Linked DNA regions of Homo sapiens: regions 1 and 2 are each linked to region 3. Evidence: fine-mapped expression QTL. A gene starts in region 3. Each other region holds a variant in brackets. All regions are shown on one strand. Distances are between the middles of the regions.

The links. PIP is the estimated chance that this variant, and not a neighbour inherited with it, causes the effect.
Region 1: its variant is the best candidate, but not a certain one, in a credible set for the expression of FAT1 in fibroblasts (GTEx, PIP 0.73).
Region 2: its variant is the best candidate, but not a certain one, in a credible set for the expression of FAT1 in tibial nerve (GTEx, PIP 0.61).

The regions. Positions count from the first base shown.
Region 1 is chr4:186,888,775-186,896,593 of GRCh38, reverse strand. All of the region lies in intron 1 of LOC102723906 (a long non-coding RNA gene), which reads right to left. LOC105377599 (a long non-coding RNA gene) reads right to left here and starts at 7,327. Exons shown (of 3, transcript XR_939596.2): 1 at 5,226-7,327; 2 at 4,133-4,323; 3 at 3,611-3,814. The variant A/G (reference allele first, on the strand shown) is at 5,115.
Region 2 is chr4:186,687,729-186,698,426 of GRCh38, reverse strand. The region is part of intron 2 of FAT1 (FAT atypical cadherin 1); the gene reads left to right. Among named protein-coding and RNA genes, the nearest start is that of FAT1, 31 kb to the left of the region's middle. RefSeq lists enhancers at 8,245-8,744, 9,976-10,596. The variant T/C (reference allele first, on the strand shown) is at 5,582.
Region 3 is chr4:186,719,285-186,729,982 of GRCh38, reverse strand. FAT1 (FAT atypical cadherin 1) reads left to right here and starts at 6,127. Exons shown (of 27, transcript NM_005245.4): 1 at 6,127-6,319. RefSeq lists enhancers at 3,001-3,502, 4,685-5,684, 6,185-6,686.

The sequences.
Region 1 (7,819 bases), 170 kb before region 3:
TAATACATAAAAAGTATTAAAAATCCCAAAGGAATGCAAACATCAGCAACGCAGTTTTAGAAACTGAAAACCAGCTAGTGAGTGGTGGCTGACTTGGCGGTGTGGAAGGATACAAAGTCATCAGTACACATCTCCTTTCCTGCTGGAGCCCCGCGTGCTGGCAGCTGGCAGTGTGGCGCCCGCCTTCAGGAAAGAGTTTGGAAGCTCTCCTGGGGGCATCTGGCCCACCTACAGGAAGAGACCAACCAGTGTAGGGGATCTGCGAGAAAATGCTCAGCCAACTCATCCCACAGGGAAGCCCGCCATCAATAAAACCCCACCCACAAGCCTAGAGTTTACCAAAAAGAGCACCAAAAACCAACCTTCAAATTAAAAATAGAACAGGAGAAATAAAACATTCAGTAGAAAGATTAGAAGATGAGGTAAAGAAATCTAGAAAGCTGATGATTAAAAACAGAAAATAGGAAAAAAAGGCCAGGTGCAGTGGCTGATGCCTGTAATCCCAGCACTTTGGGAGGCCAAGGTGGACGGATTACCTGAGGTCAGGATTTCAAGACCAGCCTGGCCAACATGGTGAAACCCCATCTCTACTAAAAATCCAAAAATTAGCATGGTGGCGTGGGCCTGTAGTTCCAACTACTCGGGAGGCTGAGGCAGAAGAATCACTTGAACCCGGGAGGCAGAGGTTGCAGTGAGCCGAGATTCAGCCATTGCACTCCTGGGTGGCACCATCTCAAACAAAAAAAAAAAAGGAAAGAAAAGAAAAATGATAATAAAATTAGAGAACTATTCAAGAAAGCCAATATCTATATCATATGAGTTTCAGAAAGTAGAAACAGGAAAAGAAAATGGAGTGGAGAAAACCATCAACTGACTCAGTCGTGAAAATGGTCCCAGAGCTCCAGGATGAATTTCTGGATTAGAAAGACCCATTCAAGTTCAACGAATGAAAATAGAACCACACTAGTGCATTTCATTGGTAAATTTATAAAGGGGGGGGCGGTGAGGGGAATGTTTTCCATATAGCAAAGGAAAAACAGATCACATATGAAGGATTAAGGATTTGAATGGCTTTGAACTTCTCAACAGCAATGTTGGAAACTAAAAGACATGAAAATGGCTTCTAAATTCTAAAGAAAAATAATTTCCAACCAGTAACTCCAGACCTGGCCGAACTATCAAGTAAGTGTAAGAATAACAACATTTTCAGACAGGCAAAATCTCCAAAAGGTGATGGCCACAGAGTGGGTGTAAGTGACCCACCAAGCTAGACCAGAGGTCAGAGTCACCAAGAAGAGGAACTCGACATTAAAGTTTGAAGGGATTGGGAGAGGATGTATACACTGGAAAACCGAGCAGATTCGGATCAACCCTAGAAACACAAAGTGACGTGTGTTTTACTCGCTTTCTATACACCTCTTCGTTGAGGGAGGAATGGCTGGACCCACAACGCCAGACACTGGCCAGGTAAGATCGATGGCCGTTGATTAACAGCAAGTGCTCACAGCCCAGGGGAGAAGAGCGATGCCCACCACTCAGGCCCTCAGGAGCAGAGTGAGCAACCAGGCGGCGGGAGCCAGGCTTTGTAGTACCACGGGGGTGAGGTGACCCCTGGTCCCCATGGGAGGGTGTGATTGGCTTGTCTGAATAAAACTCCAGGCTGGTAGGGAACCGAAACTTGTTACTCAGGAATAGGCAGGAACTGTGCCTGGTCCGCTCAGTAAGGAGGGGTGTTTAGCCAAGGGACCTTATCCACAGGTGCAGGCTTGAGGGGAACTTGAGGTTAGACCATTTGATGCCTTCCTGGTTTCACCAAAGGTCAGGGCAGCATATACCACAGGGCCTTAATTTTAGGCCTCACACCAATGTTCAGAAGAGGAAAAGTAATGATAACATACCTGTGCGTAGTCATGATTAGCATTTATATCTTACATAAATGAGTACAACTTATAGGAAGATGGGACAGACAGAAAATGTGTTGTCTGTGTTGAGAGAAAGGGGTGTTGCTGTGTGGAAGAGCTAAACCCTCATGCTCCCCCGTGGGAAGTCCACAGAGGGGATCAAATGGACATATCAGTGAGTGGCAGCATCAGCGTGATATTTACAAGCGTGGATGTAAGTGCCAAACAAATTCAGTTAAAAGTGGCTGCTTCTGGGGAAGTGGAAGTTAAGGATAAGAAGGTCAGGGGCTGCTGTTTCCTCATACCTGTTTGCCTCTTTAAATTGTATGCATGAATAAATCAGAAAATTTTTTAAACCTAATTTTTAAAAATTAACGAAGATAAGTTTGTTGTGTACAGGGGAGAACATAGAGGAATTTGTTGTTTGATACTTAATAGGTCAGCTCTAGAGGCAAGCCATGAGCTGCTTGTGGCTCTCTTCCCCCAGCTGTTCCACCTTGGAGAAGTTACACAACCTCTCTGAGCTTAAGCTGCTTCCCCTCTAAAATGGAACAATCATAACGATATCTACTACCTGGCACTCTGGTGAAGATGGACGAAATGACATAAATGGTGGACTTGCCCCAATGTCTGCCCCACAGAAAGCACCCTGCTGACGTTAGCGATCTTCCATGAGGATGACTGCTTTTCTCAGCAGGGTACCAAACACTCTTGCTATAAGGTGAGGTGGTGAGGTCTGGAGTTTGAGGAATGACACGAAAATCTCAAAGAGCTGTGAGGGAAACAGGACTAGAACTGGAAATGATCGCTCTGCAGAACGGAGGGCCCTGCTGGGGTGAGCCCAAGAACGTGTAGCAAGTTCACAGTGTCACCTGCAGCAGCAGCACTGGTGCACGGGTGGGGAAATCGGGTGTTTGGACTGACGGGGGACTGGAGTTTTGCTGAGCAAAGCGGGTAAGGGAGTGCAAAAACAGTGGCAACAGTACGATTGACGTGATGGACCCTGGAGTTCAGGCTGCAAACAAAGCCTGGAGAGAGTAGAAGCAACCTGATTGATTGGGCCTGGAGGTTTTCCGCAGCCAAAGATTATGGCAAGTAAAAGGAGGCACGTGAAACTAGTTCAGAAAAAAACATCAGAGAGCAGGGGATGGGCAGGGTTTTTATTTCCTAGCCCCATGGTATAGAATAAAATACATGCTATAGAATAGCAACTTATTTTATGTCCTCACGACAGCGTTACAGAAAAGGTAAAATGAGGAGTGGGCAAAAAAAGCCTGACCCCTTTTCATGGATATCTGGGTTGTGTTAGGCCCAGCACATATTAACTTTATTTATGTTTCACAACAGTCTTATGAAGCATAATCATGCCCTCATTTTATAAAGGGTAAACTATAGCTCAGAGAAGTTGGATAATTAACTCCAAAGTCAAGGTAAGTTCCACAGCACCCAGCTGGCAATGAACTCAGAGGCAGGTGATTGGTACTGCAGCCAGCTGTGGGAACTAGAGAAAGGCATTTATTTTTCTGACGCTCAATTTCCTAAAAGTTGAGTGGCTGGATTGGGTAATCTTTAAAACACTTCCAGAATTAACGCCCTGTGCTTCTAACTTAACAGTGTCTATGAGCATCATTTTTCTCATTTGTCAGAAAGAAGTAACCAAATCTCCCTTACCCACCTCAGAGAGCTGTGATGAATACCAAATACGATAATGCATGTAAAAGTGATTTATTAAATCAACGTATGCTATATGATCAAGAGATTAAAATATTTAGAAATACAGGGGGAAAGTTACAGTCATGACGAAGAAATATAGCGAGACTGAGATTCAAATAATATCCAGAGAACACCTCTTCCAGTCACTAGCTAGAGACCTCGGGCAGGTTAGCTGACCTTGTGTGCCTCAGTTTCCTTATCTGTAAAATGAGGATTAGAAAGTGGACTACTTCAAAAGTTGTTGTGAGAATTAAGTGAGTTGGTTTATGAAAAGTATCTTTTAAAAGCCCTTGGCGTAACGCGTGTGCTAAGAACACTATTATTGTTATTACTACACTGAAAACACAAACTTCTCAAGATTAGAAAAAAAAATCCAAAGGGAAAGCATTAGGATGCTGGAATGAGAATAAAACTGAGATTTGAAAAAATAATATATATATAGTAAGATTGGTGCAAAAGTAATCGCAGCTTTTGCCATTACTTTTAATGGCAAGAATCGCGATTACTTTTGCACCAACCTAATAAGTAGGGCCCACTTAGTCCGCTGCCAATTCCAGATGAGAAAGCGGAAATAGCCAGCAGCCGCCTGTGTATGTGACTTGTGGAGCTCCATGAAGTCTGCTCTGCTCCTCACAGTTCTCAGCCCCGCAGGAGAACCACAGTGTCTGCCATTCGAGGTTCCACTATCTGGGAATGATTGCCTCAAGTGCTGGAGAATAAGAGCAGAATAAGGCAAGTCACTGTCCTTGGACACCTAATGATGAACGAATCAGCTATTTAAACAGATAGCTCAGATACACCACAGGAACTACCAGCATTTTCTGTTTAATTTATTTACCCCCCCCCCCCAAGAAAAGCCAAGCTCCAGCTGTAGAGCTGGCACCGTTCATGCTTTACTCTCCCTACTCAAAGGACACAGTCAAGAGGTGGTGCCAGCGACCTAGCGAGGAACAGCAGGGCCTGAACTAGGGAAGTGGTATCAGGAATGAAGAGGAGGAAACAGATTTAGTTTACATTCTGGGACTTGAAACTGGCAAGGTTTGGCAACTGATCGGGAGCAATTGATGAGATATTGAAATAAAGGAAAAATTCTAGATAACTCTGGAGGAACTTTGCCAAGTGACATGGATCTACAGGGCACAAACATATCAGACATGTTTTTAAAAGTCCAAGCTTATTTTTAGAATCCCTCACACATCAGCGACTGCTAGTTTCCTACCCAAAGTCTACTAAACCATATTCTTAACTAATAAAACCTGTAAATTTCTAGGTGCAGAAAAAAAATGTCTGGCTTTCCTTCCTGATGGGGTGGCCAGTGAAATGTCAGCAAATGCATTGGATGAGATTGCTGGAAAACATCTTTGCTCCTGTCCCTTCTTTCTTAAATAGAACATGGGCAGGATAGCTGGAGGCTCAGCAGCCTTGTCTGTGGACCTGAGGTGACCTTAAGGAAAAGCACTAATAAGGATGGAGAAATTAAAAACAAAAACAGCCTGTGAC[A/G]TAGAAGGCATCACAGCACCACCACACTGGCCCTCGGCTACTTACATTTAGGTTGGTGCAAAGGTAATCACGCTTTTTGTCATTAATTTCAACAGCAAAAACCAATATTACCTCCAGTCAGCGAGGGTGGTCCCAGTGTGTCCGAAATTGGTGGGTTCTTGGTCTCACAGCCTTCAAGAATGAAGCCGCAGACCCTCACAGTGAGTGTTACAGTTCTTAAAGGTGGCATGTCCTGAGTTTGTTCCTTCTGACGTTCCAGCCTGTTCAGAGTTTCTTCCTTCTGGTGGGTTCGTGGTCTCGCTGGCTCAAAAGTGAAGCTGCAGATCTTCGGGTGTTAACAGCTCTTAAGTTGGGGCGTCTGGAGTTGTTTGTTCTTCCCAGTGGGTTCTTTGTCTCGCTGGCTTCAGGACTGAACCTGTAAATCTTCACCATGAGTGTTACAGCTCATAAATGCAGTGTAAACCCAAAGAGTGGGCAGTAGCAAGATTTATTGCAAAGAGCTAAAGAACAAAACTTACACTGTGGCAGGCCACTCTAGCAACTTGCTAGTGCTAGCGCGGAGCAGCCTGCTTTTATTCTCTTATCTGGCCCCACCCACATCCTGCTGATTGGTCCATTTTACAGAGAGCCGATTGGTCTGTTTTACAGAGAGCTGATTGGTCCATTTTGACAGAGTGCTGATTGGTGCGTTTACAATCCCTGAGTTCGACACAAAAGTTCTCCACGGCCCCACTAAATTAGCTAGAAACAGAGTGTCGATTGGTGCATTCACAAACCCTGAGCTAGACACAGGGTGCTGATTGGTGTGTTTACAAACCTTGAGCTAGATACAGAGTGCTGATTGGTGCATTCACAATCCCCCAGCTAGACATAAAGATTCTCCAAGTCCCCACCAGACTCAGGAGTCCAGCTGGCTTCATCCAGTGGATCTCACACCGGGGCCGCAGGTGGAGCTGCCTGCCACTCCGTCGCCGTGCGCTGGCACTCCTCAGACCTTGGGCAGTGGATGGGATCGGGCGCCGTGGAACATGGGGCAGCGCTCGTCGGGGAGACTCAGGCCCGGCAGGAGCATCTGGCAGTGCGGAGGGAGACTCAGGCATGGCAGGCTGCAGGTCCCCAGCCCTGCCCGAGGGGAGGCAGCTAAGGCACGGCAAGAAATCCAGCACAGAGCCGGTGGGCCGGCACTGCTGGGGGACCCGGCACACCCTCCGCAGCTGCTGGCCCGGGTAGTAAGCTCCTCACTGCCCGGGACTTGCGAGCCGGCCTGCGGCTCCCAGTGTGAGGCCCGCTGAGCCCACGCCCACCCGGAACTCGTGCTGGCCCGCAGGCACCCGCGAAGCCCTGGTTCCCGCCCATGCCTCTCCCTCCACACCTCCCTGCAAGCTGAGGGAGCTGGCTCCGGTCTCGGCCAGCCCAGCAAGGGGCTCCCACAGTGCGGCGGCGGGCTGGAGGGCTCCTCAAGTGCCGTCAAAGTGGGAGCCCAGGCAGAGGAGGCGCCGAGAGCGAGCGTGGGCTGCGAGGGCTACCAGCACACTGTCAACTCTCACCACGGCCATCCCTCTTTCCAATCAAGCCGACCTGGAAAACAGAAACTCAAAGCAAAGAGCTCATCCTACTTCCTCTTTACCCTCCTGTCTGTCACCTTGCTGAAGAATCTCACTCATGTGCACATCAGTTTCAAGTTCTGTCTCTATTCTCTGCATGGCCACGGAGAAGCCACCAGCTGATACCAGAGCGGCAAAGGGTTGTGTGGGAGATGAGGAATTCCGCCTGGAAGAGGCTGAGTGTAAGTGGACTTGAGGAGAACCAGGGGACGATGCCCACACTGGAGCTGGAGGGGCCTGGAGCTCGGGAGAAGGGCGCTGGCTGGAGGTTAGGTGGGGGTTTGGGACCATGAACGCGGGTGGGTCGCTCGGGAGAACACGTGGAGGAACGAGAGCAGCGGGGGGTGAAAGAGCCCTGGGGCGCCGGCCTCCCGCATGCTGTGGAGGACCCCTAAGGATGGCAGAGAATGCCCAGCGCCGCCCATGAATGAGAACGAGGGAAAAACGCCTCACGTAGAGCCGGGCGTCGGGATTGTCCAAACGGAGAGGTCCCCTTAGCGAAGTGCGCCTCGGCTTAGTTTAGACGCGCGCTGTCCTGCCAGAGGGCTGCGATGAGACGTGGGCACCGGGGCTGCTCTGGAGCGCCCCTGACGGCACGGCCGGGGAAGTGAGGAGCCACAGGCAGCGGAGGGCAGGAAGGCGGGAGGAGTGGCAGGAAGGCGGGAGGAGTGGCAGGAAGGCGGGAGGAGTGGCAGGAAGGCGGGAGGAGTGGCAGGAAGGCGAGGGACAGCCTCCGCTTCCAGCGTCCCCCAGAACGCGGAGAGGCAGCCTGAGTCTTACTCTCCCACCACATCAATTCCCAGCACCGTGGGCCCCGGGGCCACTTTATTTTTTGTATTTTTTTGAGATGGGGTGTCTCTGTCGCCCAGGCTGGAGTCCGGTGGTGCGATCTCGGCTCACTGCAACCTCCGCCTCCCGGGTTCACACCATTCTCCTGCCTCAGCCTCCGGAGTAGCTGGGGTTACAGGCCCCCAGTCCACTTTCTTGGAGTCTGCTGTGTCTGACCAAAAAGCCCATCTTCGCCACATCTAAAGCTGGAAGTTCATTTGCCAGCGTTGTTTAGAGCAAAAAGGTGAGAAAAGTAGCTTAAAGTATAAGACA
Region 2 (10,698 bases), 32 kb after region 3:
GTGGGCGCACGTAAGTCTTTGAATGCTTGGTGTATATAACAGGCACTCAATGCATAATGGTTAGGCTGGCCTGGTAAGCCATCGTGGGGTCTCCGGGGAAACCTTTCCTTCAAGCCAGGTAGCCTTTGCTTCTCTTCGCTGCGGGGGCACTTCCTGTGTGTTCCTCTGTTGTAGTGTATGACTCAGTGCGCGGCCTGTCTGTGACTTCAGTCCGTCTCCATGAACTCAAGGACACAGTCCAGCGTAATCATCTGTCTACCCTCTTCTAAGCACAGTGGCTGATAGAGCAGTAAGTAGCCCTCATTTGTTTTGTGAGCAAATAGATTGTAACACACAGTAATTGCAGTTGTGAAGGTTGAGCGAAGCTTCTTTTCTGCCACCCTGGACGCCTATTTGTAGGCTCCAAAACTGTGGTTCTTGATGGTTTTGGCGTCACAGAAACTTTGAGAATCTGTGGAAAGCTGTATATTCTTTCTTCAGAGAGACAGTGATTTGATTCAATACCAAGGGGCTCAGTGAAGTGCCGAACCTGTGTTCATGCACTGACCGTCTTCTTGGAATCCTGGTTTTGAGATCCTCTGTTCTGGAGGTTCCAGGGTTGTCAGTCCTCACAAATTCTCATAAAGGAGGACCAGCGGGTAAGGATAATGGTGATGATGATGATGGCAGTGATGACAGTGACAGTGACAAGCATTTTTATAATGCCTTACAACCTGCAAGTATTTCTACATACATTATATGGTGCTTAATGTAATAGAGAAATAAAACCTGTATAAAAATTATAAATGAGCTAGATAAACCTTAACAATGGACAGGTCACTTTTCTATATATTTGTACATGTGCCTGAAATGATTTAGGAGAAACCGTCATTCAAGGCTGTTTCCAAGTGAAATAAGAACCTGTAGTTCTTTATACACCTGTTTCATCAGATGTTCTGTCTCCCCATTGAGGCATACGGCACAAATAAAACAGATATAATGAACAGTGTGCATCATCCCTCGGAGAGCATGGGGATCGGTTTCTGGACCGTCCGCGCACACCCACATCTGTGCGTTCTGAGGTCCCGCAGCCGGCCCTCCACAGACGCTGCGCTTTCGCGTGCTGTGAGTACTGTGTTTTTGATTTGCCTTCAGTTGAAAAGAGTTCATGTGTAAATGGGCCTGTGCAGTTCAAACTCGTGTTGTCCAAGGGTCATTGATACCTCGTTTAAGTTAAGCAGCTTTCTAGGCCAGGCTTTGGTCTTTAGTTTTGCCAGCTCACCATGGAAAACCCTTAATGCCACACCACTAGTATTCCTTTACTTATTAAGGCAATCTGTCAGGAAACTCAGGCCTCTAATGATAAAGTTAGCTCCCTTGGCAGACAGAATTAATTAATTAATTAATTAATTATTTTCTAAGACAGAGTCTTGCTTTGTTGCCAAGGCCAGAGTCGAGTTGCAGTGGCTCAATCTCTGCCTGCTGCAGCCTGCACCTCCAAGTTGAAGTGATTCTCCTGCCTCAGCCTCCCAAGTAGCTGGGATTACAGGTGTGCACCACCACACCCAGCTAATTTTTCTGTTTTTACTAGAGACGAGTTTTTGCTGTGTTGGCCAGGCTGGTCTCGAACTCCTGATCTCAAGTGATCTGCCCACCTTGGCTTCCCAAAGTGTTGGAATTACAGGCGTGAGCCACTGTGCCCAGTCCAGAATTTTTATTTAAATGGACTTGCCGTATGTTCTTTGACCTCTATGGAAAATAGCCCTGCCATAAGTTCTTAGTTAAAAGATTCTCCAAAATGCATTTGTGGGTCCTGGTTTGCTTTTAGCTTTCTATTAATTTTTTTACTTGCCTCTTTATTCTTAGGGCTGCTTGACATTACTCTGTCTCAGACGTCCGTGTTCCTCTTATCACAGTGCTTGGCACAGGGCTGGTACCGAGTAGCTGCCTGCTCAGGGGGTGTTCATCTTTTCATAGATCCTGTGCATGTTTGTCCCATGATCCTCTTCTTTCGATTTGTTGCCCAGCTGAAGGTGTTTACATATTTAAGTGAAAAAAGGCGGGTTTGTCATGTAAATACCAAGTTAGTCTGTTGGTTGAGGCAACAAAATGGAAATCAGTTATTTTTTAAGGATCTAAAAAATTTTAAAAGGAAGTGCTTTTTCTTAATAGTGTGGCAAGCTCATTTAGAAGATGGAAACTGATTAGGAAAGTATGAACATGAGTAATATCCATATGTGGTTTTAATTGGCAGAATGTTGATTTCAGAAAGAAGTCACACGAAGTTTCATATCTACAAAGTATCAAGATTAGAGTTTAAGGTCAGTAATTTTTAAAATAAGTGTTCTAGGGCCTATGGCCGGGCGCTGTGGCTCCCGCCTGTAATCCCAACACTTTGGGAGGTGAAGGCGGGCGGATCATCTGAGGTCAGGAGTTCAAGATCAGCCTGGCCAACATGGTGAAACCCTGTCTCTACTAAAAATACAAAATTAGCTGGGCCTAGTGGCGCACACCTGTAGTCTCAGCTGCTCCAGAGGCTGAGGCAGGAGAATTGCTTGAATCTGGGAGCTGGAGGTTGCAGTGAGTCGAGATTGTGCCACTGCCCTTCAGCCTGGGGGACAAGAGTGAAACTCCGTCTCAAAAATGTGTGTGTGTGTGTGTGTGTGTGTGTGTGTGTGTGTGTGTGTTTTATATATAATACATATTAAAAATTATTTTAGCATGTTTAAAAAATCTGCTTTTGTCATTTGACTTCCACCAGAATATAAGGCTGAAACTGGACTCTGTCCGTGTCTGTATCACTTACTTAGGAACTGACTGGCATCTAGGCATCCAGCCAATACTGGTTGAATGCGTAAAATTTAAAATGGAAATAGATTGTAACAAAATACTAAAGGGAAACGCTTATCTAAATAACTATTGTTGAGAAAGCCCTTTTAAATTTGTCCTTTTTAATATAGTTAAGGCTGCTCTTCCACTTGAGACACCCTGTCTCCCATACCTTCCAAAATTACAAGAATAAGAACAACAAAGCAGTTTAGTAGCAATGCGGGTTCCTCTTTGTTTCTGCTTTGCTTACCTAGGAGCAGCCTCCTTTGTGAGATTGAGTATCTAGATTCTGAGGCTGGCCTTCCAGGTGAATATACCTGAGTTACGTGTTGTGTCCTTGGGCTGTAGAGTAGTGCTATTGCCTGTATCATCCTCTGGATTGAAAAGTATTTCTTTTGTTTTAAGTATAAAAGATGAGTATCCATTGCCATTGCACATTATTCAGCAAAAACTTGAACTCTAAAAAACGTTCAGATTAGTAGGATCTATTTTTGTTAGTATCATTATTGATGAATTTCTTAAAACTTAAGAAAATAGTTACTTCTAGAGATTCACAGATTATTTTTGAAACTGTTGGTTTTCTGGATTAAATTGAGCTCACCCAACTATCCTTTGAAAAAGCTGTTTTGTATTTTTGTTTTGTTTTGTTTTTGTTTTGAGATGGAGTCTCGCTCTGTTGCCCAGGCTGGAGTGCAGTGGCACGATCTTGGCTCCCTGCAACCTCTGCCTCCTGGGTTCAAGCGATTCTTCTGCTTCAGCCTCCCAAGTAGCTGGGATTACAGGCACCCGCCATCATGCCTGGCTAATTTTTGTATTTTTTGTAGAGACGGGGTTTCACCATGTTGGCTAGCTGATCATGAACTCCTGACCTCAGGTGATCTGCCTTCCTCAGCCTCCTGAAATGCTGGGATTACTGGTGTGAACCACTGTACCCAGCCTGTTTTGTATTTTAAGTGTCTTGGTTACTTCTGTGGAGAGGTGCAATTTACTTAAAACCAAACACTTTCTTTTAAAGGGTGGTTGAATAATGGGGGGAAATTTAGTTAGTTACCAGACTCTTTTAAGAAAAATAATATGTATGTAAACTAAAAGTAGTTTTCTTATTTTAGTAACTACATCTAAGTAAAAGTTTTTTAAAAACTCATTTGTTCTTTGTCAACTCTTCTTGCTACTTAGGAACTCTGATTCTAAACCTTCCACTCATATAAATAGAAAATTATCAGTAGCTAGTTCAGTTAACTTCATTATTCTATTTAAAAGTAACTCTTTAGGATGATTAAAGGAAGGAAAGGAAACCGTTGTGGAAGTTGTTCACTGTGTATTTGAGTAGAAATCTGTTCATAGCAAGTTGCATTTGAGAGAGGTTGAGCGTTATGAGAAATGGGGAGATGGTGGTTAGGTTAGGTGAGAGGCAGGTTGAGTTTGGGAGATGTTGAGTTTCGTTAGAAATAGGAAGATGGTGGTTGGATTAGTAGATGAGAGGCAGGTTGAGTCTGGGAGAGGTTGAGTGTTGTGAGAAATAGGAAGATGGTGGATGGGTTAGATGAGAGGCAGGTCGAGCTTGTGAGATGTTGAGTTTTGTGAGAAATAGGAAGATGGTGGTTGGATTAGTAGATGAGAGGCAGGTTGAGTTTGGGAGAGGTTGAGTGTTGTGAAGAGTGGGGAGATGGTGGTTGGGTTAGATGAGAGGCAGGTTGAGTCTGGGAGAGGTTGAATCTTGTGAGGAATGTGGAGATGGCTGTTAGGTTAGATGAAATACATGAGAAACTCAAGTGGAATAAGTGTAGGCAAATCCAGAGCTGAACTGAAACGTTTTATTGTCTTTGGGCCAATATTAAGTATTGTGAAGGAAATTACAGAGAATGGCATTTAGCCTTTTGTTGGGAAACAAACCATCCCAAAACCTCATAGCTTAGAACAGCCTCCACTCATTTGGGTCACCGTTCTGTGGGTGGGCGATTTGGGCTGGGCTCAGCTGGGTGTTTCCTTGGCTGTTTTCCACGGGCTGACTCATGTTTGATCAGTTGCTGTTGAGCTCGAGGGCCCTGCTCCCAGGAGGTGGCTGGGTGTTCGCTGCAGGCAGCAGCTCCTAGGCCCTGTGTCTGTGATCATCCCGCAGCCTGTCCTGGACCCGTTTACATGGTGGTCTCGGGGTTCTGGGTGCTCGAGGAAAGCAGCAAATCCGCTGGGCCAAGGCTCAGAACTCCTCCACTGTCATCTCCCACGTGCTGTGACACAGTTCGTTCATCCAGCCACAGGTAGGGAGGTAGGCTAACCTTGCTGAGAGGAGCTGCCGAGTACTGTGTTCATGTTCCTACTTCCAGAGGCACTTTTACCCGATTGCGTTTCCCTTTGAGGGAATCCCTTCTGAATGTTAAATGTGCATTACTATATAAAGGCTTGTGAAAATTGTGAAAATATCAATATGGTCTTAAAACTTTTCTGTCTTACATAACGATACTTTAAGTTTGTCATACTGTTCAAACATGTAATGGCATTACAGTATATCTTCAAGTTATTTTTAGCACATTTCCATTTAAACTAGAACGTAAGCAGAGATACCAGGGGGATGCTTGAAGTCTGAAGATACCAAAGCAATGCTCCTCCATCGTCTTCCTACTTCATTTTCTATCACAAAGATCTCTGAAGTTTCTTACCCCCAAAGGAATTGGAGAATTCCAGTTATCGTGTTTCTAAAGTGAAAGGCGGAGAGATGGAGTGTCTGGTAAAGGGCAGCAAGGGGTTCTTCACGATAGACTTTGGCCTGCAGATG[T/C]TCGTTTTTCTCATTAGCACCACTTCCTGCTAATTAATTTGTCACAAACTATCTCATTGATTTATTGCTGTCCCGTAGAGAATGGAATACTTGGGGAAATGGAATTGGAAGTCCATGGAAGACTGGGGGGCGTGGAAATAGACACCGAAATGAGGAGAGAATATAGGAGTGTTGATTTGGTATCTTTAGGTTTCATGCAGCCCTCTGACATCTCTGCTTAAGTTTCAGCTTAAATGGAAAAGTTTTAAAAATAACCTAAGATTCCCAGCACTTTGGGAGGCCGAGGCGGGCGGATCACGAGGTCAGGAGATCGAGACCATCCTGGCTAACACGGTGAAACCCCGTCTCTACTAAAAATACAAAAAATTAGCCGGGCGTGGTGGCGGGCGCCTGTAGTCCCAGCTACTCGGGAGGCTGAGGCAGGAGAATGGCGTGAACCCGGGAGGCGGAGCTTGCAGTGAACCGAGATTGCGCCACTGCACTCCAGCCTGGGCGACAGAGCGAGACTCCGTCTCAAAAAAATAAATAAATAAATAAATAACCTAAGATGTATTTTAATACCACTTAGTATTTTGCTAATTTTAGCTTATATTAGAGTTGTTTGTTACGGGACGTATGTGCAACAGTTAATAGGAAAGTGCTCTGTGGTAAGTTGAAATAGAAATCTTAGGATTTGAAATAGAAACGTGTAACTGTATTGACTCACTAAGCATTTTGACATTATTTCTGTTTGGAAATTTTGGGAGTGGATGTCTTTGAACACATTGACATATACATGGGGGGGAAGAAAAACAAACTTGTGGCCTTCTTTAACAGAGATTTTTAGAGAAGTAGTAAGTCCCAGCTGCCATTCTTCTCCTCAAAGAGATTAGAAAAAGAACCACATAAAAATAATCATTATTATAGGTAAAAAAAAATAGTAGCCACAGTAAAGCATACATGTTTATTGTTTACTGCTTGTAGAAAGGTTCAGTGATCATTAAATGTCAGAACGAATCGTCTTGTTTCTGTTTTTTTTAATATTTTATTTTGTTTTTATTTAGAGATGGGATCTCACTTTCTCAGACTGGAGTACAGTGGCACAATCAGGGCTTACTGCAGCCTTGAACTCCGGGGCTCAAGCAATCCTCCCACCACAGCCTCCTGAGTAGCTGGGACTACAGGCATATGCCACCATGCCCGGCTAATTTTTTTTACTTTTTTTGCAGAGGTGGGGTCTTGCTATGTTGCCCAGGCTGGTCTCGAACTCCTCAGCTCAAGTGATCCATCCTACTACCTTGGCCTCCCAAAGCGCTGACATTACAGATGTGAGCCAACATGCCTGTCACGCCTGGCTCAGTGGCCTTGTTTCTAACAAAAAATTTTCTCATGAAATGAAATGAAGATTCTGTAACAAGTTAGTTGACAAACTTTGTTAGAAACCTAATGTAGAGATGGTGACTTAAAATGTGATATTCTCATAAACAGTAAGTCTTGGATATAGTATATAGAAGATCATGTTAGCGAAGAGAATAAAAGTCTTAAATTGTTTCTTTTGGTGTTAGAGATGAATCTGCACTAGAGGCACCTAATCAGCACGGTGTACTCTGTATAAGCTAAAACAAAACACAACAGTGATTCATGTCCCAGAGTAGACCATGAAACCACTTATTAGAAATATTCCAAAGTTTACTGTTTTTAGATACAGGTGCTCATATGTGAAAGGTGAACTGATTTTTACAATTTATATTAACAAAATTGTGCAAATTCTGCCACTTTTTACCGTTACTCGTTATTTTTTAAATCAAATGAATTAGTATAACAGGTCAAAAGCAGCACTGCCCAATAGTACTGTCTTTATTTGTAATTTTATATATTTTAGTAGCCACAATAAAAAAGAATATAACAGATGAAATTTTAATAATATATTTTATTTAGTCCAACATATCAAAAAGTACAATTACAGCATGTGATTAGCGTAAGTATTAATGAGACCTTTAACATTCATTTTTTCCTATGAAGTCTTTAAATCAGTGTATATTCCACCCTTACAGCAAATTTCAGTTTCGACTAGCCCCATTTCAAATGCAAGTTTAGAGACTTATGTAGAGTTCAACTGCCTTAAAGATATTTGTGACTTTAAATTTGGATAGTGGGCTACTAGATTTTTTTTTTTTGAGGCAGAGTCTCACTCTGTCGCCCAGGCTGGAGTGCAGTAGCGTGATCTCTGCTCACTGCAACTCCTGGGTTCAAGTGATTCTCCTACCTCAGTCTCCCAAGTAGCTGGGATTACAGGTGTGAGCCACCACACCTAGCTAAATTTTTGTATTTTTATTAGAGACGGAGTTTTACCATGTTGGTTAGGCTGGTCACCAACTCTGGACCTCAGATGATCTGCCTGCCTCGGCCTCCAGGTGCTGGGATTACAGACGTGAGCCACCGTGCAGGCTATTAGATTTTCTTCTGTGAATGACGTACACGAAATAAGTGACCTAGAGCTACGTCTCTGATCATTCACTTTGGTTATAATTTTTTTGCAAATTACCTATGCTGGAATCTTTTGGGGTTGGTGGGAATGGTTTTGTTTCTGATTGTTTTTACTTCCTCAACTGTCCTAAGATTACCAGCATTCTAATGAATAGTAAACTTGAGATAACGGCTTCATGCCTAACAAGTATAATTTATCTCTGTAGTCTCAAGTGTTTGCTCTTCTTTTTAAAATGTTTCTTTTTAGAGAAATACAGCTTTGAATTCTACTACACTTTTCTGTAACGCAATGCAGTAACATGTTTTTTGTTTATTTGTAGCTATCCTATAGGGATAGGGAAAATGTAATTGAATAGTAACTGAGGAAGGGGCTACTAAAACCTGAGAAAAAATGATAGGAAAGTTACTCTTTCCCTTCATTTGGGTGATGGGAAAAAGTAGGTATGAGATCTTCTAATGGGCTTGTGAGTGCGGTAGTCTTTTTAAAGAGTCACATGGTGTGTTAATTTTCCTCTGGATATTAAGAGATCACCACCAACAAAGCAAGGCTTGATCGCCCAGGTGAGGTGGTGTGCGGAGTCGAGTCGTGTGGCGGGTGTGCATGCCCTTGTGGGAAAGGAAGTGGAAGAGTTAAGTAGTTCTGCCTGTTGAATTAGCCTGGTGTGGGTGGGTGCCAGATACCCTGGGCTAAGGACATTCAATGAGGATGTTAAAAGCCTATTACACTGGTGTTGCTGAAAATTTATTTGTTGAAGAGGCTGGTGGCCTAGATCCTGGCATGGCTTTAAAAATATTACAGTGAAGCAATTCTTGTGATGTTAAGCGAGTGTGTGAGCTCATTTTGGAGTCTTTTGACTTGGACTCTCTCTCGCTTTGGTTAATGAGTGTGGAAAAACAGCCCAGAAGTTAATTTAAAATCAGACTTTGTTTTCAATTAAAAATTGTCCATGATGGGTCATTGGATGTGAATGCAAAAAGAAAAAAAATGTCCAGTGATAGCTTTTGTAAAATTCCGAGTAAATCATGTGTCTTTTTGAGGATAAACATTTGTTATTGAAGTTCCCTCATTTAAATAGCTTTTTGGGGGGCATAATTTGGATTTGTAGCATAATTCTAATTTGATTTGACGTACAAGATACAAATCTTCTTTATGTGAAAGTATATGACATCTTAAAGTGATATTTTTACAGAGTGATTTTCCAAAAGATTTATTTAGACCAGGTCCATCATTTCCAAGTGAAGTGAAATCTTTATTCATTAACTGTAAAGTTTCTGTGGGCTTCCACAATTGCTAACATGTATAATTAATTCAAAACCCATGCTTTTCACACTTCTTTTTGAAAAGTAGTTGCTTTCTGTAAACTTGACCTTTCTGTTGTTTCAATGGCCTGTTTATTCTTTTCAGAGTTAAAAAGGTCATTTTCAGGTTTATGGAATTTTCCATGTAAATTTTGGGATCTGCATGCTGGGGTGATTTTCTGCTTTATATTTATTGCGGTACTTTTTGTGTCCTTGGGTTTAAACGAATACAGGTTATGAAAACCTACCCTGCCACATTGTGGCTGCTGCCTTTGTATCTCACAGATACACCTGTTTCATTTGGGCTTCATCAGTTTCACGTCAAGAGTTGTGACTGAAGCTTAAGTAAATATGTTTATTTTGTGCCGGCTGCTGGCTGGAAAGTCTACTGTAGCAGCTGAAGGGTGTGTGTTTTTTTGGGGGGGGGCGGGGGGGGTACTCTTGCTGGGTGAACCATCATTGTGACAGGTAAATGGAATTCGTCAATAAAGCTTGAATTGCGTCCCCCTTCATTTCTTCCGAGCTGTTGAATGTAGGGATTGTCTTGCTTGGAACCCTATTGATTAGGTCACAGCCTGGTCTGCAGAAAACAGAGCTGCCCAGGGGCCATCTCACTGCAGGGGATTTGCCGAAGCCCCTGTGAAAGGACCACATGGGGTCCGCGATTACCTTATGAACAGGAATCAGTTCAGGGAGCAGATACATATTAAGGACCTATTAACTTCTACAGGCTTCTCTTTGACTTGAGAAGCACTGGAGAGTGAAGATTCCTTCACACATAATGAAAGGAAATTATTGCCAAAGCCACCGAAGGTGCATCTTGCCATATCTCTGTGGGTGCCTCTGTTGAGTTGCAAATTTATTTCCTGCTGGGGCATCTGCTTAGCTTTAGAAGTCCCATTTAAGGTCATGAAAAGGGAATTTGGAAATGATTACATAGTGTTGGCTTTTTTTTTTTTTTTTTTTCAGCTTTGAGTCTCCATAGCATTTGGACAGAATTAGCGAACTCCCCTCATTAAAAAAATGATCTTTATTTCCAATAAAAAGGCAGTATATAGTCATTGTAGAAGCCTGGGAAAATGTAAACTACTGGAAAGGAGAAAACATGACTAAAATTTTACTACCTAGAACCCTGGTGAACTTTTCCCCTAACTCATATGTACCTGCACAAAGATGCCTTTCCAGTGCCAGGTGCGGGATTTGTAAAAATGATGAACAGAAAACATTTACTGAACGTGTAGTTTTGTTGACTGCCTTCTGCTATATCCAGAACATTTTCTGGTTGGTAGGTATTCTTAAAGAATGTGATTTTTAGAATATAGAGTGCCAGCACAGAGACAGACTAATAGAAG
Region 3 (10,698 bases):
TTTTTTTTTAATGGTTAGCCATTAGTAGGTGATTTGTAATACCTCCAAATACTTTCCCAAGTGACTGGTTATGGCATCAGAAATTTCATGTTTTAACTATAGCTTTAAGAAAGCCCTTGCTATAAGGCACTGGGAAGGGTGGAAGGATATTATTATAACATACTCATACCCATAGTTAACCAGCACTGATTCCCATCAGATTGACTAGGTGTCTAATGTTCTTTTTTTTTGAGATGGAGTCTCGCTCTGTCACCAGGCTGGAGTGCAATGGCGCCATCTCAGCTCACTGCAACCTCTGCCTCCCGGGTTCAAGTGATTCTCCTGCCTCAGCCTCCCGAGTAGCTGGGATTACAGGCACCCGCCACCATGCCCAGCTAATTTTTGTATTTTTAGTAGAGACGGGGTTTCACCATATTAGCCAGGCTGGTATCAAACCCTTTCCCTCAGGTGATCCACCCGCCTCAGACTACCAAAGTGTTGGGATTACAGGCATGAGCCACCGTGCCCAGCCAGGTGTCTAATGTTCTAATGGCTCCCTCTGAGAGTACAAGCTGATTCCGGAGAAGAGCTGTATTTGAATGCAAAGGGTAAAATAATTCCAAGGTGCAGGGGAAGTGGAGAGGGCTGATATTTCCTCTCACCTCCAGGAAGGGGAGGCCGCAATGGGCACACAGGCAGATGAGAAAGCAGTGAAAGCAGCAGAGAGGGTGGGATGCCAGGAGTCAGTCAAGCCTACTTAGAAGTATTTGGTCCTAGGGCTATTCCAAAAAATGTCTCAGAATTGTTTCCTGCTTTAAATCTATGATTTCCCCTGGTTTTATGAGTCAGCAAAGACGGAAAACAACTAAAAGGCCATGTTAATATTTCTTAATCACTAAACACACCTACCTCATTAAATCTTGGGTCTTACATATTTTCACCCAGCATATTGTTGGTACTTGATAAATATTTGCTGAATGAATGAATCCTTCCATGATTCTGGGTCCTCCCTTATACTTCAGAGGTGACTCAGTATTGGACACACTGAAATTTTAATGCTTGATGTAGCCTTCCATAAAATAGCAGTGTTTTTAAAGGTCTAGACCAAGGTGTCCAGTGGAACTCTGTCATGACGAAAATGTTCTTTGATCTGCTGCGATCAATACAATTGTCACTAGCCACACATGGTCACTGAAACTCGGAATGCAGCTGGTGAGACTCAGGAAGTGCCTTTTAATTTAGTTTAACTGGAAGTAGCCACAGGGGGCAAGTGGCTGCCCACTACATTAGCACAGCTCTAGAGGTTCTGTTAAAAGTTTTCTGCCCATCTCACTTTGAAAACCAGCTATTTTGACTAATATCATCAATTGTTATTCATAAGTTCCTGTCATTTGTGATTTTTATCTTTTTTAAGTAATTTGGTTTATTTATTACAACTTTAAAGTGAGTATAGCAAACCAAATGGACTTCAGCGAGAAGCCTCTCGGGGTGAATTTATTGTGAATCATTTTGAGGACTTGCAATATGTGGTCAATTTCTAATTTCAACTATTGACACAAAAGGAGAGAGCCTGTGTAGTTGAAACAGGGAAGCAGGAGAAGTCCGCTGGGCACTGACAGACTGGCCTCTCAAGCCAGCCTCCTCCCTCCTTAGGAATCTGGCACCCTCTAGCTGCCCTCGGGGTCTGCAGGAGCTCTAAAATCCCTTCCTATATCCCTCCGTGTCCTAGCTCCCTGGATCCTCTCCTCCCTTCCAAATCAAAATGTACCTTGAGGGAGAGGCTTGGGCAGGAGGATCTCTTGAGCCCAGGAGACCTGACTTGAGTCTGGAGACCTGCCTGGCAGAATCTCCAATCAGTGGTGATGATGCTGATTTTATGGATTAAAAACTGAGACACTGCCAAGAAGTGAGGGAAGGGAGCGGGGGAGGGCAGGAAAACTAATATTGTTTAAGTACCTACTATGTGCGTGCTAGACACTTCATATGATGCTCAGTAAAAATGCTTTGCCTGCATGAATAACTGTTATCTCCCTGGCAAGTAGAGTGCAGTATGTTTTTTTTTTGAATGGATAAACACATGAATACATTTTTACCACATGAAGCAGATATTAGTCCCATATCACAGATGAGGACACTGACATTTAGACAAGTTATGACTTCAAGGCTAAACACACACAACATTCCAATCACCTAATCTTGTTCTCTCCTTACTGTTTAGCTCCCTGCCCAGTTTCCTCTGTGCTCAGAATTTTGCTCTTGACCTTTGTAAAAGAACGACCAGCTAAACTGATCAACATATTTATACCAACGGATGCAAATATGATAGAACCGCCCCCAGCCCCCTTTTGCAAGGATCTTGAATGTTAATGACAATCTTCTGGGGACAATGTCAACTCACAGAAATGGCTCCCTCGGAATTTCACGCTGTTCGGGGAGGTATTTTGGTACTTTAGTGGCATTAAAAATATATTCCACAGCAGATATTTTCCTGGAGGCTGGACACTTACATAAAGACGACGCATTCTTTATAAATTAAACCTCAACAGTGTTTGCATTTATCTAAATGGATATTATTTCGAGGAGGAGACAGTGATTTGCGTATTAGCCCCTATCACTAGGGATGACTTGTAAGACACATTAGGAACTGGCTCCTCCCCTATCCCTTCGCCCCCTCCTCTCAGAACCTTATAAGCTTCAGAGTACGGTCAAGACAAGAGGAGCATTGGGAAAGAATTTGAAAATAAAAATACAGCTCCGTGATTTTCAACACAAAGACCACGAAGAGCATAATAATAAGTCGTGAAAAAAAATTCACATCCAGAAGTTGGAGGGCCACAAAGTACAAGTCGTCCAGGCCAGTCTGCAGAGACTGTTCATGCTTCCGCCCAGCAAAAATCTGGCAGGCGACACATCGCGACGAATTTCGGCTGCAGAAGAGGAAGAGCATCACCTGCAGTCCGCGGCGTGGGAAACGCCGCCGGAGGGGCTCCGCGAGCCGGGGAAGTGCGCGCAGCGGGGCTCCAGGCGGCTCCAGGCGCTGAGTGCGAGGAACGCCCGCGCTCGCCGGCGCCCGGGAGACGCAGCCGAAGGAGGAGGGCGGGCGTTTCACCCGCGCCACAGCTGCGGCCGGCCAGAGAGACCGCAGAGGCCGGGACCCCCGCAGCCTCCACGGCCGCTGCTGCCACTGTCGGGGTGGCGCGCCCAGCCGGAGAATCCCGTCCGCGCCCGGGGCGGGGGGCGAGGCGGGGCGCTGACGTCACCTCCCCTCCCCCACCGCCTCCAAGGGGGAGGGAGTGGGGAAAGAGGCAGCGAGTCGCCGCAGCCGGCGGCCGCAACTCCTCAACTCGGCGGCTGGCTGCCTGGGCACGTCCTGACAAACTTGGCTGCTCCCGGGCCCTCGTTCCGGCCCCGCGCACTCTCTTTTCGCCTGCGTTTGGTGCTTAAGTTTGCCCTGGTCGGAAGCCTCCGGAGATGCGGCCGCCTGGGTCCCGGCGGCACGGACGTTGGCACTCTGGTTAGGGACATGCTGAAGATCCCGGGGAGGCAAAGTTGGTACTTCAAACCCGGCTCTTAACACATATCTACACCGCGAGGGGATCACGGAGCTGCCGAGGACTTTAGAGCCCAGGGCCGAGGACTCGGCTAGACTGGTGAGTTCTTTGTTCAAATCGTGCATGCCTTTTGGCATTTAAGTTTAAACGTTAATGAAATTACGTGGGGTGTGTGGCTCTAAGCGAGTGCGGGGAAGCGTGTGCGCCCTACGGGTTCTCGGCTCCAGGAGCTGCGCATCCCTCTGGCTTTGTGCGGATCGGCGATGAAAGATTCGTATGCATAGCTTTGGGAGTTCATAAAATACATATAGAGCACTGTTAAAAAGAACTTGAGAGGCGATGCTGTTTGTGCATTATTTTGAATGTAACTTATTATAGCAATGGTGCCTAGGGAGGGCGCATCGGGGCCGCGAGATTTGCAGGGGCGCAGCGCCCTCTAGTCCGGGCACCTGGCGAGGCGCGCTCCTTGCAGGGTTCTGTGCGGAGGCGAACCTGGACCTCCCCGGCGCTCGGCGACGTGGGCGCTTGCTCACCCCAGTCTTCACTGACCACCCACCCGGGCCCATTCTTTATATGAGTTACAAAAATCAGCTTGGGTGGACTGGATGTAGAGGCCGTGCTGGAGGAAAGCGTTTTGTTTCTGGAACCGTCTCCCCAACCCCCTCCCTAATTTCCACGAGCCTTTGGGGACAGGGTTAGGGAGGGTCGATTATTTAAAGGACAAATGTGGAACTTGAACCACATTTCTCTCTCTCATATAAAATAATTCGATTTGTGGTAGCTAATAGGCATGTCCATTTCGTTCTGTTGGCGCTTAAGGATCAGTAGAATCGTGGCAGAGTCCTAAGTCTGAAATCTCCATCCCTGGCTCTCGGCGGCTCCTGTGGCGACGAAGTGCAACTTCTTCCAGGCAGATAGATTTCTCAGGGAGCCTGGAAAATCGGGATTCCCAGACAGATGTAAAACATCTAGTAAGCCCTAGGAAGCGTTATTACTTATTAATTAATGGTAATCTTCTCCAGGAATTCTCTTGTGCCATTTAAAAAAAATCCCGTGATTTTACGTCAGGGAATGGTATCTTTGTACTTTTTTTACTGTTCTTCTTTTCCCCTTTTAGCATTACTCCCGCTTCCTCGCTCCCAGGAAACGGCTGGAGTTCCGGTGTGTTTGGGTTTTGCTGAGATTTACAATTCGGCAAGCGGCACAAGCCGGTTGGGCTTGGAGATCAGGTCACCCACTTTCGAGGTGTTCCATGTATGAAATTGACCTGTAAGCACTTGGAGCAATTATGGCCGGGACAAACACGTCTTTGGATGATGGAGTTTGCATTTGCTGGATGTGTGAATCTATGTGTATTCCAACTGGTGGGCAGGGAATATAGGGCTACGAATCGGCACACTCATCTTGCAGGCATTATTTTTCCTTCCCAGCCACAACCTGCTAGACACCTTTATTATTATTATTTTTTCCGGTCACCTCTAAGATGGCTTATAAGGTGACTGCGTTAACTTTGAACCCAGGAAATTCTCTTTCACACTTGACTGCCCTGCCGTTCCCCTCCCCGCCAAGCTCCCCTCACCAGTCCCAGGGAAATCGGATCTCTTTGTCTTCCCAGTGTTAAAATGCCTGAGTCCCACAAACTTTCCGAGATCAAGTCCGCCCTCTTGTCCGGGCTGCGTCCCAGCGCCTCCGGCCCTCCGGGCTTCGGCCGAGTCCGCCCTGCGCCGAGCCTGCGGCTGGAGCCCTGCCCGCACCGGGGATGGGCTCCGCGCCCGGGACGCTCAGGCTGGGCGCCCGGCGCGGGGAGTTCTCGGAGCGGGCTTCTCGGCGCTGGGGCTTCCCCTCTGCCTAGGAACTTGCAGTTGTCGGCCTGGGGTCACGCTTTGGGGCCCCTGGGGCCGACTCCCGGGCTAGGAAGCCCGCGGGACGCCGCGACTGCCTTTTGTCCCACAGGCCTGGGCGTCCGGGGTGTCAGCGGGGGAGGCCAGGCGCCCGCGGCGGGGAGGGCCTGGGGTCTAACTCGGCAGAAAAAGGTCGCGGGGGAAGCGTTTCCATTTTCTGGGGATTGAAGGAGGAAGTAGATTCCGACCTAGCTGCATTCCTTTGGAGACCTGAAGGACGACTTCAGCCCACCAAACCTTCGCGGACCCAGAGCCGCGCCATTCAAATGCAGATTCAGGGGCTCCCAGAAGGCTATGGAAAAGCTAAAGGGATGCCTCTGGGAAGCTTTCTCATTAGGCCCCAGCCTTTTTTTTTTTTTTTTTTTTTTAGCTAAGCTAACGTTTCCCTTTCTTGGCAGGGAGCTTTCCCCAATTCCTTGCACAGCGCCTGTGGCTGGCCGTAACTAACCTCGGCATCACAAGCCTCGCCCTGCCCCTCGGAGCCGCGCTAGACCCCGCTGGGCGCCTTCTCGTCTCCCAGCACGGACCTGGTGTTCGCAGGGACTGGGGCTCTTTGGGTCCGGGCGGGACTGCGTGGCCGAGCCCGCGGTCCCAGAGCCGGCAGCCGGGGAAAGTGGGCTCGAGTTTCCGCGCCCGAGAAATGAGCGCCGGCGCCGGCGGGCGGGGCCGGGGCGGAGGGATCTCCTGCGCTCGGGGAGCGTGAGGCGCCGGCGCCGAGCTGGGCGGCCGGGCGCGGGGAGAGGGCGCGGGAGCGGCTCGTGCGGCAGGTACCATGCGGACGCGCGAGCCCGGCGAGGGCCCCGGCAGGCCCGGTCCCTGCTCGGGGGCGCGCTGAGACGGCGGGTGAGCTCCACGAGAGCGCCGTCGCCACTTCGGGCCAACTTTGCGGTTAGTTCGCTGGGGCGCGGGCCGGCGGGCGGGGGCGAGAGCGTGCAGCGCGCTGCGGTGCGGACTCTGTGGGTGTCCGCCCGGTCCCCGGCTCGGGCTCCGGCGCTGCCGAAAACGGATGAGCGCGCGACTTCCCGGAGGGTGGAGTGACTCGGTCCTTCCCAGTTGGGAAATTCAGCACTGGCTAGGGGGGTCCCGGCGGCGGAGCGGGAAAAGGAGGCGACCGCGCGGGACCGATCCGGGGCCATTGCTGGGGTCCGATCCTTTCTGACACGCCGCCTTCCCTCCGGGAGCTCGCCGGGCTGCGCCGGCCTCGCGGTCTCCTGGGGCATCCCGCCGTCTGCGAAAGACCCGCTCGCTGAGCGGTGCACGCGGGAGGCCTGCGCGGGGCTGCCGGGTCCCTGGGTCTCTGGGTGTTTGCGCCCTGCAGGAGCGCTGCCCGGAGGTGCAGATGCAACCGGTGGACTGCGGAGTGAAGGGCTGCGAGGCTGCATTTCGGGGCTGAACATCTGCACAATGTGCGGTTTGTCAGTGTTTTCTGTCTTCTCTGGAGGAGGAACTTCTAAGATCTTTTTAAAAGAAAGAGTTTTTGGTCCTTCATTGCCTTTAAAAAAAAATGCTTTCTTTTAGAGAGCCAGCTTTCTGCTGTGTGTTAGATTTTTTTGTTCCCGCTGATGTGAATTGCAAGGCTTTGGAAACAAGGACGCAATTGTATGAGTTAGGAAAGTAAACTCATAAATATTTTCTATGCAGTTAAGTTTTTTTTTTTGTCTGAACTGTGGTTTCATTAAGTGGCTTTTGTTAAGCAATTCCCGGGTGCCTGATAGAGGCGATTTTTTAAAAGTGGATATTAACAGTGATTATTAGTATGAGAAAAGATTGAAAAGAAAATGACCTTCAGATATTCATTTCCTTTTCAAAAGCAGATTCTTAATGCTTCGTATATTCAGATACAGGTTTCGATAGTTTAAGAAGGTATCTGTGTGTGAGAACTAGGTAATGGTGATGTTTTTCACACTATTCTTAATGAGTTTGGTTATGCTGTCCAACACATCCAGTTGTTACAGGGACGTTTGAAAAGGTGTTTCTCCAGTTAATAGTTAATTGTGATATTTGTCTTTGTCTTTTTGTCTTAGGAAGACAGCTCTGATTCCACAGTTAGAATTATTCCTTTGTATTTAAGATGTAAAAATACTTAAAGCACTATGTAATTTTTTAAAACAACAATTGGTATAAGCCTTGAGTGATGCTAAACATGGCATTTAACAAGCTCAAGGTAAGGTTTGATTTGAATGAAGTTTGCATTTGTATAACCATTTTTTGAAAAATGAACACCTTAAATGAGCCAAATTCTTTGGCACTCTGGAAAGAAGTGTGGTTGTTAGAGGACTTTATAAAATCATTTCGGGCCACCTGTATATTCATTTGTCTCTTTTGAAGTATCCCCGTTGGGTTCTCATCATGTTAGTAGATCATTTAAATCCATGGTCCGGACAGGTGCCAACAGAAAAATGTTTAAAAATTATGGCCGGGCGTAGTGCCTCACGCCTGTAAACCCAGCCCTATGGGAGGTCGAGGCGGGCGGATCACCGGAGGTCGGGGGTCCGAGACCAACCTGACCAACATGGAGAAACCCCGTCTCTACTAAAAATACAAAATTAGCGGAGTGTGGTGGTGCATGCCTGTAATCCCAGCTACTTGGGAGGCTGAGGCAGGAGAATCGCTTCAACCCGGGAGGCGGAGGTTGTGGTAAGCCGAGATCGTGCCATTGCAATTCAGCCTGGGGAAAAAAAAGAAAAGAAAAAGAAGAGAAGAAAAATCTTTAAAAATTATGCACAAACTAATTCTGTTTTCATTCCCCTGATCATCCTCTACCTTTCCATTGCCTTTAGACTTTGCTTTGAGGTCCCTTTGAAGCAGTCGTTTCTTTGAATGTTAGAGGTGGATAGGATCTTAGAGATTATGTTTTAACACTTTACCCGCTTGCTTTCCACCCAAGTTTGGCTGATTTTACGTAGAATCAATCAGCCAAATCAAATTAGTACATTATTATTGCATTAGATTCTGTCTCAGTGGCATAATTTGTAGCCTAAAGGACCTGATTTAATAGCAGGGAGCCGTAAGGCTGGATGTGCTGTTTAATCTTTATGAGTGGGATTTGCGCTAGATAATTGTTCTTTTGACCAAATTATGTAGAAGTTGAAGCCAAACTCTATCTTTTGGTCTCACTTAATTGTTCAGTTTGCAAGTGCTTATTTATCCTTAGACACTGGAGAAGAGTTTTTGAAATGAGTGATATACATCAGTTAAGATCAGGAAGTTGCCATTTTCTCATACCTGAGGGGAACTTTTCATTTCAAAAATATATTCTGATGAGGAATCTGCATATTTCACTCTTTTAAGTTTTTTAAGTCATCTTTTACTGTAAGTCCCAGATTTAAATACATTGCCTGAATTCTTGCTTAATTCCAAGGGTTCATTATGTATGTGAAGATAAGTCTATAAAGTAAAAATAATAAAGGCTTCTATACACTGCTTAGGAAATATTAGTCATGATTTAATCTGTATCCTTCATAGAATATTAAGGTTAGAGCTTTGTGATAATCTGCAACACAGACACTGATCTGGCATTATCTATAGCCAATTTTGAGGCAGCGTAAGGTGGGTGGTGACCTCTTTCTGAGCTATTGGAAATGAGTCCTCTACAGAGCAGCCACCTGCAGTGTTGTTACCAGCCTCGTGGTTGTGCCTGGATTTTCTGTTAATTTGAGAAGGATGGATGTTTTATTTTCCTATGTTATCCCTCTCTATATCCCCTCCCCAACACAGTCCTGCCTCACATTTCTCACTCTTAACGCTTTATTCATCTGTCCATTTACCAATCCAACAATAGTGGACCTCCTCTGTGTCAAACATTGGGCCAGACACAACATCTAGTGCTGAACAAATCGTGTTTCCTGCCCTCAAGCAGCTCGTAGTCTGATAAGGGAGAGGACAAGTACACAGTCTCTTATAGACCAGTGTGATAAGAGATCCATTCAGGTCAAGGTGGTCCATAGCAGCACCTCAGTGAGCTGGGGGATCTGGGGCAGGTGGATTTAGGATAATGTGAGTTCTGAGGGAAGTGTGAATCAGAGGGGAACAATTCAAGCAGAGGAAATGATGTGTGCAAAGCAAGTTATAGAAAGCATAGTGTGGCTTGTGGTGTGATGAGTGGAGAGAAATTCTGAAGACCTCACCGTACCATGTTATCTTAGGAAAAGGATTGGCTTCTTTTTTTTGTCTAGGTAGAACATAGAGAATCTTGACTATGACTTAAATAATCTTATTAAAAAAGGGAGGATTGTTTTTATGAGGCAGAGGTTAAGGAGAGAGAAAAAGAAAGAAACGTTGAAGAGAAAGGTGAAAACAAATAAGCTGTATGTGAGGAGTGGAGGGCAGGAAACAAAGAAAATAGTAATGTTTGCATTATCTTTCGGAAGGGAAGAGGTCAAGATGTTACATTACTTTAGAGCCTTCACCACTAGGTGGTGTTATTGGCTCAAGACAGCTTGGTTACTGAACTTGTTGCAAGTCTGGGAAGTATGCCTTTTTGTTTTGAAATAAGAAGTAGTGTTGGGAAATTAGGAAATTAGTTAGAGGTTAGATTATCAAAGGTCTTTAATGCAAGGTTAAGAATCATATACTTAGCAGGCTAAGGGGAAATACTGAATATTTTCAAGCTAAAGAATAATATCACAAAGAAGTTTGAATAGGTTGACTGGGATTGGGGGCAGAAAGCAGGAATACCAAAAGACTGTAGGAATACTCTGCATGAACAAAATACCCATTCTAACTAGGTGGTAGCAGCAGAAATGCAAAGGGAACCATTTTGAGAAATTGAGAAAGAAATGTCAAGTTTGGATAACTTTTGAGAAATGAAGGTTTGAGAGCCAGGAGGCTGTAAAGATTTTAGTCCATCCTTCAATTTCTCGAATACATAGAGTCGAAAGGATTAAGCAAGTTCCTTGAATTCACACAGTTGATTAGTGACAAAGCTGGAGCTAGGTTCCACATTTGATGTTCTCCCAACCCCTTCCTTTTTGTTTGATTTGTTAGTTTGCAAACTTGGTTGATTTGGGAAGTGGTGAGATTGGAAAATAACTGGAAGAGCTGTTATTTTGCAATGGCGAAAGGGTGAAAAGTCTATATAGTTGTCCCTTGGTCTCTAAGGGAGGTTTGGGATTTTATACCCAAATCTGAGAATGCTCAAGTCCCTGATATAAAATGGGGTACTATTTATATTTTTACTGTTTTATTGTTTATTTTAAAGACGTTCTCAACCTGAGGTTGGTTGGATCCATGGATGCAGAACTCTTATATAGTGAAGGCCAATCGTA